Regions from separate parts of the Homo sapiens genome. Here regions 1 and 3 are each linked to region 2. The links come from fine-mapping of genetic effects on gene expression. A gene starts in region 2. Each other region holds a variant in brackets. All regions are shown on one strand. Distances are between the middles of the regions.

Region 1 (4,280 bases), 57 kb before region 2:
TTTTTTTTGAAACGGAGTCTAGCTCTGTCACCCAGGCTGAAGTGCAGTGGCGCAATCTCGGCTCACTGCAGCCTCCACCTCCCAGGTTCACGTGATTCTCCTGCCTCAGCCTCCTGAGTAGCTGGGATTACAGGCATGTGCCACCACGCCTGGCTAATTTTTGTATTTTTAGTAGAGACGGGGTTTCACCATGTTGGTCAGGCTGTTCTCAAACTCCTAACCTCATGATCCGCCAGCCTCAGCCTCCCAAAGTGCTGGGATTACAGGCATGAGCCACCATGCCCTGCCGTTTTTTTGAGACAGTCTCGCTCTGTTGCCCAGGCTGGAGGGCAGTGGCGCAATCAAGGCTCACTGCAATCTCCCGACTCCCAGGTTCACACGATTCTCCTGCCTCAGCCTCCCGAGTAGCTGGTACTACAGGAGCCCACCACCACGCCCAATTTTTGTTTGTTTTGTTTTGAGCAGGAGTCTTGTTCTGTCACCCAGGCTGGAGTGCAGTGCCGTGATCTCGGCTTACTGCAACCTCTGCCTCCCAGGTTCAAGCAATTCTCTGCCTCAGCCTCCCAAGTAGCTGGGGTCACAGGCGCCCGCCACCACACCTGGCTAATTTTTGTATTTTTAGTAGAGATGGGGTTTCACCATTTTGGCCAGGCTGGTCTTGAACTCCCAACCTCGTGCTCCACCTGCCTTGGCCTCTCAAAGTGCTGGGATTACAGGTGTGAGCCACCGCTCCTGGTCCAATTTTTGTATTTTTAATAGAGATGGGATTTCGCCATGTTGGCCAGGTTGGTCTTGAACTCCTGATCTCAAGTGATCCGCCCGCCTCGGCCTCCCAAAGTGCTGGGATTACAGGCATGAGCCACTATGCCTGGCCCCCAATAAAATAGATTTTTAAATCAAAAACTGTAAAAAAAAGATAGAGAAGGTCATTATGTAATAACAAAGGGGTCAATTTAGCAAGAGAATAATTGTAAATATATATGCACCCAACATCAAAGCACCTAAATATATAAAGCAAATATTAATAGATCTGAAAGATAGGTTGTACTACAGTAACAGTAGGAGATTTTCACACCTCACAATTAGCAATGCACAGATCATGCAGACAGAAAGCCAACAAGGAAACATGAGACTTAAGCTACACTATAGAACAAATGGACCTAAAAGACATACACAGAACATACCATTCAACAGTGGCATAATACATTATTTTAAGCTGCACATGGAACATTCTCAAGGATAGATCATATGTCAAGCCACAAAATAAGTCTTAACAAATTTAAGAAGATGGAAATCATATCAAATATCTTTTCTGACCACAATGGTATAAAACTAGAAATCATTAACAGGAGGATCTTCAGAAAATTCACAAAAACATGGAAGTTAAACACATGCTCTTGAACAACCAATAGGTCAATGAAGATATTAAAAAACAAATTAGGAAGTTTATTGAAAAAAATGAAAACTGAAACACACAGCATACAAAGCCTATGGAATACAGCAAAAGCAGTTTTAAGACAGAAGTTTTTATAACAATAAACACTGACATCATATGTCTTCTGCAAACAGGAACAGTTTAACTTCTTTTCCAATTAAGATGCCTTGTATTTCTTTCTCTTGTCTTATTGCTCTTTCTAGGACTTCCAGTATTATGTTGAACAGAAGTGGCAAAATTGGGCATTGTGCAGCTGGGCATGGTGGCTCACACCTGTAATCCCAGCACTTTGGGAGGCCGAGGCGTGTGGATCACCTGAGGTCAGGAGTTCGAGACCAGCCTGGCCAACATGGCGAAACCCCATCTCTACTAAAAATACAAAACATTAGCCAGGTATGGTGGCGTGCACCTGTAGTCCCAGCTACTCGGGAGGCTGAGGTGAGAGCCTGGGAAGTTGAGGCTGCAGCGAGCCGTGACTATGCCACTGCACTCCAGCCTGGGTGACAGGTTGAGACTGTCTCAGGAAAAAAAAAAAAAAAAAGGCAATCTATGAAACTACTAGAAAACAGGAAGAAAAGTCAATGGCATTGGTCTGGGCAATGATTTTTGGAGGATATGACCTCAAAAGCACACTCAACAAAAGCAAAAACAGACAATTTGGATCACATAAAACTAAAAATCTCCTGCACTGCAAAGGAAACAATAAAGAGAGAACTGGCAGGCGCGGTGGCTCTCGCCTGTAATCCTAGCACTTTGGGAGGCTGAGGCAGGCAGACCACCTGAGGTCGGGAGTTTATTACCAGCCTGACCAACATGGAGAAATCCCGTCTCTACTAAAAATACAAAATTAGCAGTGCATGGTGGCACATGCCTGTAATCCCAGCTACTTAGGAGGCTGAAGCAGGAGAATCCCTTGAACCCAGGAGGCAGAGCTTGCAGTGAGCTGAGATCGTGCCATTGCACTCCAGCCTGGGCAACAAGAGCGAAACTCCACCAAAAAAAAAAAAAAGAGAGAGAGAACATACAGAATGGTTCACTATACTCGTAAACTATATATCTGATAAGGGGTTAATAACCAAAATATATAAGGAACTCCATTCAATACCAAGAAAATAACCTCATGTAAAAATGGGTAAAAGATCTGAATAGACATTTCTCAAAAGACATACAAATGGCCAAGAG[G/T]TATATGAAAAAAATTCTCAACATCACTAATCATCAAAGAAATGCAAAAAAAAACCCACATGAGGTATCACCTCACTCCCATTAAAATGGCTATAATCAAAAGGATGAAAGATGAGGCCAAGCGCAGTGGCTCACGCCTGTAATCCCAGCACTTTGGGAGGCCAAGGCAGGTGGATCACCTGAGGTCGGGCGTTTGAGACCAGCCTAGCCTGGCCAACATGGTGAAATCATGTCTCTACTAACAATATGAAAATTAGCCAGGCATGGTGGCGGGTGCCTGTAATCCCAGCTACTCGGGAGGCTAAGACAGGAGAATCGCTTGAACCTGGAGGTGGAGGTTGCAGTCAACTGACATCTCGCCACTGCACTCCAGCCTAGGCGACAGAGCGAGACTCTGTCTCAATTAAAAAAAAAAAAAAAAAAAGGCTGGGCACGGCGGCTCACGCCTGTAATCCCAGTACCTTGGGAGGCCAAGGTGGGAAGATCACCTGAGGTTGGGAGTTCGAGAGCAGCCTCACCAACATGGAGAAACCCCGTCTCTAATAAAAATACAAAATTAGCCAGGCATGGTGGTGCGTGGCTGTAATCCCAGCTACTCGGGAGGCTGAGGCAGGAGAATTGCTTGAACCCAGGAGGTGGAGGTTGCAATGAGCCGAGATCATGCCATTGCACTCCAGCCTGGGCAACAAGAGCCAAACTCCGTCTCAAAAAAAAAAAGATGACAGATAACAAGTGTTGGTGAGTATGTGGTGATAAAGGATAATCTAAGCATGCTGTTGGTGGGAATGTGAATTAGTACAACCATATGGAGAAAGAAGAGTATGGAGTTCCTCAAAAACCTAAAAACAGAGCTACCGTATGATCCAGTAATCCTGCTACTGCATATATAGCCAAAGAAAATAAAATCAGTATGTCAAAGAGAGGCCTGCACTCCCATTTTATTGCAGCACTACTCAAAATATGCAAGATATAGAATCAACCTAAGTATCCATCAACCAACAAATGGATAGGCTGAGCGCGGTGGCTCACGCCTGTAATCCCCATACTTTGGGAGGCCGAGGCAGATGGATTGCTTGAGGTCAGGAGTTTGAGACCAACCTGGCCAATATGGTGAAACCCCATCTCTACTAAAATACAAAAATTAGCCGGGCTTGGCGGCGGGTGCCAGTAATCCCAGCTACTAGGGAGCCTGAGGCAGGAGAATTGCTTGAACCCAGGAGGTGGAGGTTGCAGTGAGCTGAGAACGCGCCACTGCACTCCAGCCTGGGTGACAGAGTGAGACTCCGTCTCAAAAAAAAAAAAAAAAAAAACCACACAGACAAATGGATAAAGAACATGTGGTATACGTATACAGTGGGACACTGTTCCAATCATAAAAAAGAAGGAAATTCTCTCATTTCCAACAACATGGATGAACCTGGAGAACATTATGTTAACTGAAATAACACAGGCACAGAAAGACAAATACATATTATCTCACTCATATATGGAGTCAAAATTGATCTCACAGAAGTAGACAGGAGATGGTGGTTACCAGAGGTTAGGATGGTTGGGGTTACGGGGGTGGGGATTGGGAAGATGTTAGACAAAGGATACGTAATTACAGTCAGGAGGAACAAGTTTAAGAGCACTACTGTATAGCATGGTGATTAGTTAACAACAT
Region 2 (4,261 bases):
TCCTAAAGTGCTGGGATTATAGGTGTGAGCCACCACACCGGGCCAAAGGAGATGATACTCAGTTTCTTAAAGTGTTTGCGCATACTATCTTCATTACTGAAGAATTTCTGTTATCTGGAAACATTCTTTCTAGACTGTTACTAAAATTCATCAAGGTCAAAGCTAAATTCTTACCTGTGGGTAAGAGATGAGTTGTCTGTACAAATTTTTGTCAAATGATTTGATGTGTTCACAGTTCACATTTAAAAATGGCTCACCAATAACATTAATCTAGAAAATAAAAATGAACAAGTTATATTTTGCTAATTTAACTATTTTAAAACACGTAACTTGAATTTAAAGAGTATTTGATTACCTCCCCAAGTCGTTGCATGTATAGAGGTTCAGTAATATCTATGCCAACATTTTCTTCTTCTTTAGCCAGAGGGTCAATAAAACGCTGAAGAAATCTCTTTAAGTGGAGAGAAAACTGTATTAGGCATATAGCATTTGGGAACAGGCAACTACTAAAAACACACAAAGTTATGAGTATGTCACTATCAGGAGACAGAAATAAATAATATTTTTCTTCCTTTTTCTTTTCTAAAATTTAATTTGGAGATGGAGTCTCACTATATTGGTCAGGCTGCTATCAAACTCCTGGCCTCAAGTGATCCTCCCACCTTGGCCTCCCAAAGTACTGGGATTATAGGTGTGAGCCACCACAGGTGGCCCTTCTAGTCATTATGGCTACTTAGATATAGATTATAAACACGGTCTCCCAACATTTTCAGAGCCCAAAGTAAGAATTTTAATACATGTAGCTCACCTGAAAGTTTTCTTTGCATGCTGCCACATTTACATCTGTTCCCCAGATCACAAGTTTTTGGCCTAGAGACTGCTCACTTGCCACTATATCTTCTGCTGCTGCCTACACAGAAAAACATGACAGAATCATGAAAACAGAGTTACCCACATGATACCCGCCATAAGATGGTTTCAGGAGACTGCATACTCACCCCGTCAGACTGCAGATCCACTTGCAGGCCCTTCTGTGCAGAGCCCAGGTCAGGCCTCTGTCTCACAGGTGTGCCCCTAACACCACTTCTTGGGGTTCCCTCTACCCGAGAGCTGGGAGTGCCGTATGTCAGTGGTGAACTAACATCAAAGTCAAGAGGGATAGCTATAAAAACAAAATTAGGAAATTCTGGTGGCATATCAAACCTGAAATTACAGCATGTTGTCTGTTGATCTATACCATCTAATCGCAACAGCAAACTGAATATTTATTGCAACCTGCGGTGGCTGAGATTCTGAGCACTCTTAAATGTTCTATTAAAAAAAAGCACCAGAGAAGCTGCTTCCTCTGCTCACTAAGCCCTAAAACTACTATTTTCTGCACTCCGTTCAGCTCCTCTGGTTAAGAACATGCTCAGTCACGTGCAGAGGGGATGCTTTAGGCGTTATGCCAACTGTTATAAAGCCAGTAAACCTGAGCAGATAAAGCATCAGCTGTGTATCAAGCACAGCAAAACCAAGATCTTCAGACACGCACCTGAAGAATGCATTTGGGGAGGGCTGGAAAACAGCACGTCCTGCGCAGCAGGGCTCTGCAGGTCCACTCCAGGCGAGGTTGGCATCGGCTGCAACTCCCCCGTGGAGGTGGAATCCTCGCCTCTACGTCTCTGAGAGGGAGATGACCTGGCATCCTCACTCCGAGCTTGTGTCACACAAAACAGAAAAGACAGCCATTAACTTTCAGGGCCGGCCTTCCTGGATTTGTCTTTTCCTTGGGGCATTATGACTCACCACTGAACCAAACCAAACAGAGGCAAATGGCAATCGAATTAAGCAGCACCCAGGCCACAGCCTGCTGTGGGTGTCTGTGCGCACCAAGCGGCAGCGCCCAGCCCGAGGCTGAGCGCCCGGGTCCCGCGCACCCACCCAGCGCTGCCAGCTGCGGCGAGAGGGCAGACGGGGCGGCGCCGGGGGCTGTAGTGGGCCCGGCTCGGGGGACTCACGCGTCTGGGCGGGGGTGGCCCTTCCACGCCGGCTGCCGCGGCGGCTCGGGGTCGACGCCGGGGACGACATAGTGCTCGGAGTACCTGCGCGACAAGGACAAGCTCGGGCCGGGCCCGCCTCCCGGCTTCCCTGCCCTGCTCCGCAGCGCGGACGTTCCCGTCGGCTCCGCGCCACGCCCTCCCCGCCGGCGCGCGGTTACCGTGGAAAGGCGGCCGCTTGCCGACGACGCTCGCGGACTCCGAGTCCACCTGGCGAGTAGCGCTCCCAAACCGCGAGACCCAGAGTTCCCGCCGGCGGCAAGGTCGTCTCCGCCCCTGGCGGGGCCTCACCAATCACAGCGGCGCTCGTACGTGGCTCCGCCTCCGGGAGGCGCCACTGCGCATCGGCAGGGGGGGACAGTGCCGCTTCTTTCAGCGCCCGTGCGTAAACCAGAAGTAGGCCTCGCTCGGCCCCCCTTGGTCCAGATGGTCTGACCCCCTGCGCGGCAGCGTTTTCGCGGGAAAACTGGGTCCTACAGCACCAGCTCTCGGGGTGTGTTCCTCTAGCGTTGGCTAGGGAGCGTGTGCTTCTTTATCCCTTAGGCGTTTTTGGTTAATAAGGACATTACAGATGCATTTCTCACTTAAAGATTTTTTTTATTAAAAAAAATTAAGGACGGGAGGTGGTGGGGATGGTCTCATTATGTTGCCCAGACTGGTCTCGAACTCCTGCGATCCCCCCGCCTCAGCTTCCTAAAGTGTTGGGACTGCAGGCGGGCATCACCGCCCCCGACCGCGTTTGTCGTTTTTTATCGAGGAACAAACTTGGAACTCTTGACCTAGGCCCCTCGCTTGTTTTATCTGCCTCTGGTATTTATTTAGCCAAGTCCAACACCAAGTAGCCACCCAAACTACCTCCGCAGGTCAGACGTTTTTCCTTAGGTTTCCATGTTGATTCGGGCCAAAGAGGCGCGCTTACTGGCCAGGCCTTCCCGCAGGGGTCCCCGGGAAAGTTCCTGCCGCCGCGCCCCGCAGCCCCGCCTCCGCGCGTAGGGGCATTTCCGGGTCCGGGCCGAGCGGGCGCACGCGCGGGAGCGGGACTCGGCGGCATGGCGGGCTCCGGAGCCGGTGTGCGTTGCTCCCTGCTGCGGCTGCAGGAGACCTTGTCCGCTGCGGACCGCTGCGGTGCTGCCCTGGCCGGTCATCAACTGATCCGCGGCCTGGGGCAGGAATGCGTCCTGAGCAGCAGCCCCGCGGTGCTGGGTGGGTACCGGCCCGAGCTGGGCCGCGGGTGGGTCCTGGCTTCCCGAGTCGTTCTGGAGCCGGGCAGCCCGGCGCTTCTCTGTGTTTAGATGACGGTATTTTGAAGTACAGCAATTAGATTCTTGGGGGAATTTCTGTGTATGTGTATAAAGGGATTTGTCATACTGCTTTTTACCCCCTAGTATTAGAGGAAAGATATTTTAAAGCCAAAGTTGGTGAAAACGACCCCTAATATGGCAATCATTGCTATGCAGAGTGGGGGGCAGGGCAAGAGAAATAATTTTTTTTTTTTTTGAGACGGAGTCTCGCTCTGTCGCCCAGGCTGGAGTGAAGTGGCGCGATCTCGGCTCACTGCAACCTCCGCCTCCCGGGTTCAAGCTATTCTCCTGCCTCAGCCCCCCGAGTAGCTGGGATTACAGGCGCGCGCCACCACGCCCGGCTAATTTTTTTGTATTTTTAGTAGAGATGGGGTTTCACCATGTTGGTCAGGCTGGTCTCGAACTCCTGACCTCGTGATCCCCCCGCCTCGGCCTCCCAAAGTGCTGGGATTACAGACGTGAGCCACCGGGCCCGGCCAAGAGAAAGTATTTTCTTTCACCTGAATCTCGCCTAATCCCACCAGTACCTTTTCCAAACCCCTCTATTTGCCGTTCCTACTTTGAGAAAAATTGAAGAAATGTAATTGAAGTCATGTTCTTTTAACTCTTTAGCAATGCCTGGGTGGGAACTTTTTCCCCTTTGTAGTAAAAGTGCCTCTTTTTAGCATTTTAAATATTCAAATACTTAATTATGTGGATCTCCTGTATTCCTTCTTTAAAACACGAGTATGCAGACCTTGATGTTGTGCCCTATTAAAAGGTGAGATTTTCTTCCGGAGGGTCTAGTAGTGAATATGGTGTAGGAATAACTTAAACAGTTTAAACTAGATGCTATATGTGGCACGGTGCGGTGGCTCATGCCTGTAATCCCAGCACTTTGGGAGGCTGTGGCAGCTGGATCACCTGAGGTCAGGAGATGGA
Region 3 (4,000 bases), 78 kb after region 2:
GGTCTCTGCACCCCGGTAGACCTCTCTGTTCTCAGAGTTCTCTTGTGGCCTCGATGCTGAGTTATCATTTCTGGCATGTTCCTGCTGTGTCCCCCTTTCTCCCTGGAGATCAGTATTTAATATATAGTTGACTTTCGTTTGCTAAACCTCTGGGATTTTGAAATTTAACTTGTTCTGTGGACAGAAACTGTTAACTGTTGATATGACCATTTTAAGGGAGAGTACATGATGTCCTAAGTTGAGCTTTTATTGCAAACAGTGCTTTTCTGTTGTAGGGGAATCTTTTGTGGTAGATTGCAGTAGGAATTTGTATTCTTTAAAATTAGAAATAAAATCGTAGTAGATGACACTCAGATTTAACATTCTGATTTCTTAAACTATGACCTCTGATGGAAATGATAGAAAAAACATACGCCTTTGACCTCTATTCCTTCCCTAAATTCCTCTAAAGTAACAGAATGAGATTTTTAAAACACCTCTACAATCTCAAAGGACACAGAGAAAAGGACTTCCAAGAGTGACAAGAGTTGTAAATCAAAAGGACAGGTGTGGCAGACTGCATGCAGAGTTTGAGATAGCAGCGAGGTGATGCAGCCTTCGGAAGTTGGGGTCCACACGTGCTGAGCCCCAGCAGGGCAGACATGCGAGCAGGGGTGAGCAGAGGCTGAGAAGAGAGGATTGGGCAAAGGCCAGCTCTCCCCTGCAGGGCAGCCTCCTGTCTCTGCTGCTGGGGGTCTGATCCTCCCCACTTGAGGAGAAGGCAGGAGGCAGTGACTCCCTGGAGAGGATAGAGACCTCCAGACTGGGGGCTCTGGCATGGCTGAATATGTGGATACCATCAGGAAAAGAGGAAAGTTAAGTACTAACCTACCTAAATTCTAGACTTTCAGGCTGTCTGCCCTTTCCCTCTGAATACTTTCAGTTCAGCATCTGCCCTTGGCAGGGCACCAGAATATCCTGACAAGCCCTAAGAGAAAATAAAGATGCAGGCATCATAGCCAGCTGGGTCAGTGACAGTGATCCTCCCCACCAGCGAGCCCTGCACGCTGCACAGCGCTTCCAGGCAGGTGATACCTGTGAGCCGGCAGCCCAGGGGCTCAGGCACCTGAGGAAAGGGACGCCAGAGGGCGTAGCGGGACACAGGCAACTGTGGCAAGGCCTGTTCAGTGAGATGGAAATGTAAGCTGGAGAAAAAAAACTGAAAGATGAGAGACAAAACTGTGAAATAAGAATTGCTATGGAGAATGAACATCAGAGAACAAAAAAGGCTCTTGGGAATTAAGCATAGGCATCAGAAATTAAAAATGAAATGAGTTTGGAAGGTAAACTTGAGTAACTCTCACAGAGAGTAGAGTGAAAGACAAAACAGAAAACACGAGAGAAAAGAGGAGGAGACTAGGGATTCATGCATGAGGTTGAGCAGCAGGGCCTTGGCTCCGGAGGGCAGGGGTCAGGAGTGGCATTTGCTGAGGACACAGCTCCAGAGGAGCCCAGAAGCAAAGGCTTTGAGTTTCCAGGTAGAAGAGGGCCATGGAGTGTCCAGCATGGTGCACAGAAACAGCTCCACGTGGAGCACATTTCTTGAGAATTCAGAACCGTGGGGTTTCACTACAATAAAAGATTCTCAGGTTTCCACTGGAGAAAAAGCAGTTATGTGTGAAAGGATCTAGAAATTGAATGACATATGTCTTCTCAGCGGCAGTGTGGACATTGCAAGACTTGAACCAGATTTCTTCCATAGTTCATAAGAGAAATCTTCAGCCTAGAGTTCTGAATCCAGCTGGATTATCCATTATGTGAGAGTGGAATACAGATGTTTTAGACATGCCAGATCCCCAAGAGGTCCCTGTGCACTCTCATCACGATGCTGCTGGGTAGAGAGTGATCAGGCAGTGAGCCAAGACAGGGGAAGGTGCTGGATACAGTATGTCGGCCCCGCACAGAGGCGTGGATGGCCCAGCACCAGGTCCAGCACCAGCATTGCAGATCAAGAGCTGAGTTGCCACAGAAATGGGGCAGATAGACCTGATAGGCTTAGAGGGCTTGCAGCAATTTCATAACTTGGGAGAGTTTGATGACGAATTAATGACAGACAC[A/G]TTGAAAAGAGCAATGAAAGCAAACAAGGTTAGCTTCAGAGAGTACAAAATGTGCAAAAAGGGAAAAGCATTGTTTCTACTTGGAACATCTGTGAAAAATGTTTGCATAGTCAGAATGACAGGAATAGTGCATGTTAATCTGACCAAAATTAGCCTGTCACTCTGTTGCAGGAGTGGTGGTGAGACAGAAAATGTGGGTGTGCATGTATGATGGTAGTTGAACAAGAAGTGTGCGTTTGCGTGTGTGCATGTTTGCTTGTGTGTGTACACCTGTGTGTGCTAGTGTGTGCCTGTATGGTGGTGGTGGGACCGGAAGTATGTGCTTGGGTGCATGTTTGCTTATGTGTGTACATCTGTGTGCTTGTGCATGCATGTACAGTGGTGGTGGGATAGGAAGTGTGCATTTGTGCATATGTGCATATTTGTGTGCTTGTGCGTGTACACCTGTGTGTGCTTGTGCATGCATGTACAGTGGTGGTGGTGGTGACAGAAGAGAGCTGACTCCTTTTTCCTAGACTGCGCAGACTAGGAAAGCCAGGAGAAGCTGGATGAGCCTGATGACATAGCTAAGGCCACCCTGTACTTTGTGGAAAAACTATGGTTAAAGTGTACCTCAAATCAAACTCGAGGAGTTTTGAAGTAGATAAACATCTATTATAGAAATAGCTTATTTATTTTCCAAGAATAGCTTTGAAATAAAGGTAAATTTTGTTTTCTGTCATTCTCAAAATTAAGAATTTTTCTTCACTCACAACGAAATTGTCTCAGGTGAGTGCCGTTTTGAACGGCATGTTAGACCAGAGCTTCAGGGAGCGAGCAAACCAGAAACACCAAGGACTGAAACTTGCGACTACAATTCTGCAACACTGGAAGAAGTGTGATTCATGGTGGGCCAAAGATTCCCCTCTCGAAACTAAAATGGCAGTGCTGGCCTTACTGGCAAAAATTTTACAGGTATTCAATTCCTTTAAAAAGCAGTCATGTTTATTCTTCTGAACTCTGTAACTTGTGTCTTTAAAATTTGATGGAGGTTGCTCCAAAAGCTCATTGGTTTGACAAATAAGAAAATATTTTGACAGGATGGTTGCTTATATTTACCTTTTTAAACTTTTTCCATTATTTATTAGACTTACTATTTCTTATGCTATATCTTTTTAAAGTACCTTTGCATGTATTGTCCTAACAGATAGTATTACAATGTTTTACAATAAGATTGTGAAAATATTATTGAAGCCCAAAATTAAATTAACAATTCATTTCTGGAATTTAAACATTTGAGCAATGGGCTAAAGGAAATAGAGATGTAATATACAAATGTGTCCTGTTTTTCTTTTCCTTCCTTTAGATTGATTCATCTGTATCTTTTAATACAAGTCATGGTTCATTCCCTGAAGTCTTTACAACATATATTAGTCTACTTGCTGACACAAAGCTGGATCTACATTTAAAGGTAAACAGTGAAATATTTATTTTTTTGGATTACATTCTCTTCTGTTTTCGTATTTTTTATTTGTGATGTTTTTTATTTTTTATTATGGAAAATTTCAAACGTGTTCAAATGTAGGGAGACTAGCACAGTAATCCCCCGTACTTATTAGCCAGTCTCGATAACCATCCTGTGTGGGTGTGTTTGTTTCACCTGTGCGGTCAACCCACCCGTCAGCAGGCAAGGAAGGCCAAGCAGGCCGGGTGTGTTATCTGACCTGTATCTGCTTCAGTTCAGTGTGCCTCTCCAAGACATGAGAACATTTCTTTCTTTCTTGCTTGCTTGCTTGCTTTCTTGCTTTCTTGCTTTCTTGCTTTCTTTTTTTTTTTTTTTTTTAGACAGTCTCGCTCTGTCACCCAGGCTGAAGTACAGTGGCACAATCATGGCTCACTGCAACCTCCGCCTCTTGGGTTCAAGT

Evidence for each region. PIP is the estimated chance that this variant, and not a neighbour inherited with it, causes the effect.
Region 1: its variant is the best candidate, but not a certain one, in a credible set for the expression of MCM4 in whole blood (INTERVAL, PIP 0.67).
Region 3: its variant is the best candidate, but not a certain one, in a credible set for the expression of MCM4 in whole blood (INTERVAL, PIP 0.79).

What each region holds. Positions count from the first base shown.
Region 1 is chr8:48,015,543-48,019,822 of GRCh38, reverse strand. The region is part of intron 1 of UBE2V2 (ubiquitin conjugating enzyme E2 V2); the gene reads right to left. Among named protein-coding and RNA genes, the nearest start is that of UBE2V2, 9.3 kb to the right of the region's middle. The variant G/T (reference allele first, on the strand shown) is at 2,618.
Region 2 is chr8:47,958,954-47,963,214 of GRCh38, reverse strand. It overlaps MCM4 (minichromosome maintenance complex component 4), which reads right to left and starts at 2,274. Exons shown (of 17, transcript NM_182746.3): 1 at 2,201-2,274; 2 at 2,001-2,084; 3 at 1,535-1,699; 4 at 999-1,162; 5 at 809-910; 6 at 356-451; 7 at 175-270. The coding sequence starts at 2,070. PRKDC (protein kinase, DNA-activated, catalytic subunit) reads left to right here and starts at 3,079. Exons shown (of 86, transcript NM_006904.7): 1 at 3,079-3,242. The coding sequence starts at 3,089. RefSeq lists silencers at 1,841-2,240, 2,911-3,210, 3,221-3,270 and an enhancer at 3,451-3,610.
Region 3 is chr8:47,880,962-47,884,961 of GRCh38, reverse strand. PRKDC (protein kinase, DNA-activated, catalytic subunit) reads left to right here. Exons shown (of 86, transcript NM_006904.7): 37 at 2,865-3,050; 38 at 3,442-3,546. Among named protein-coding and RNA genes, the nearest start is that of PRKDC, 77 kb to the left of the region's middle. The variant A/G (reference allele first, on the strand shown) is at 2,097.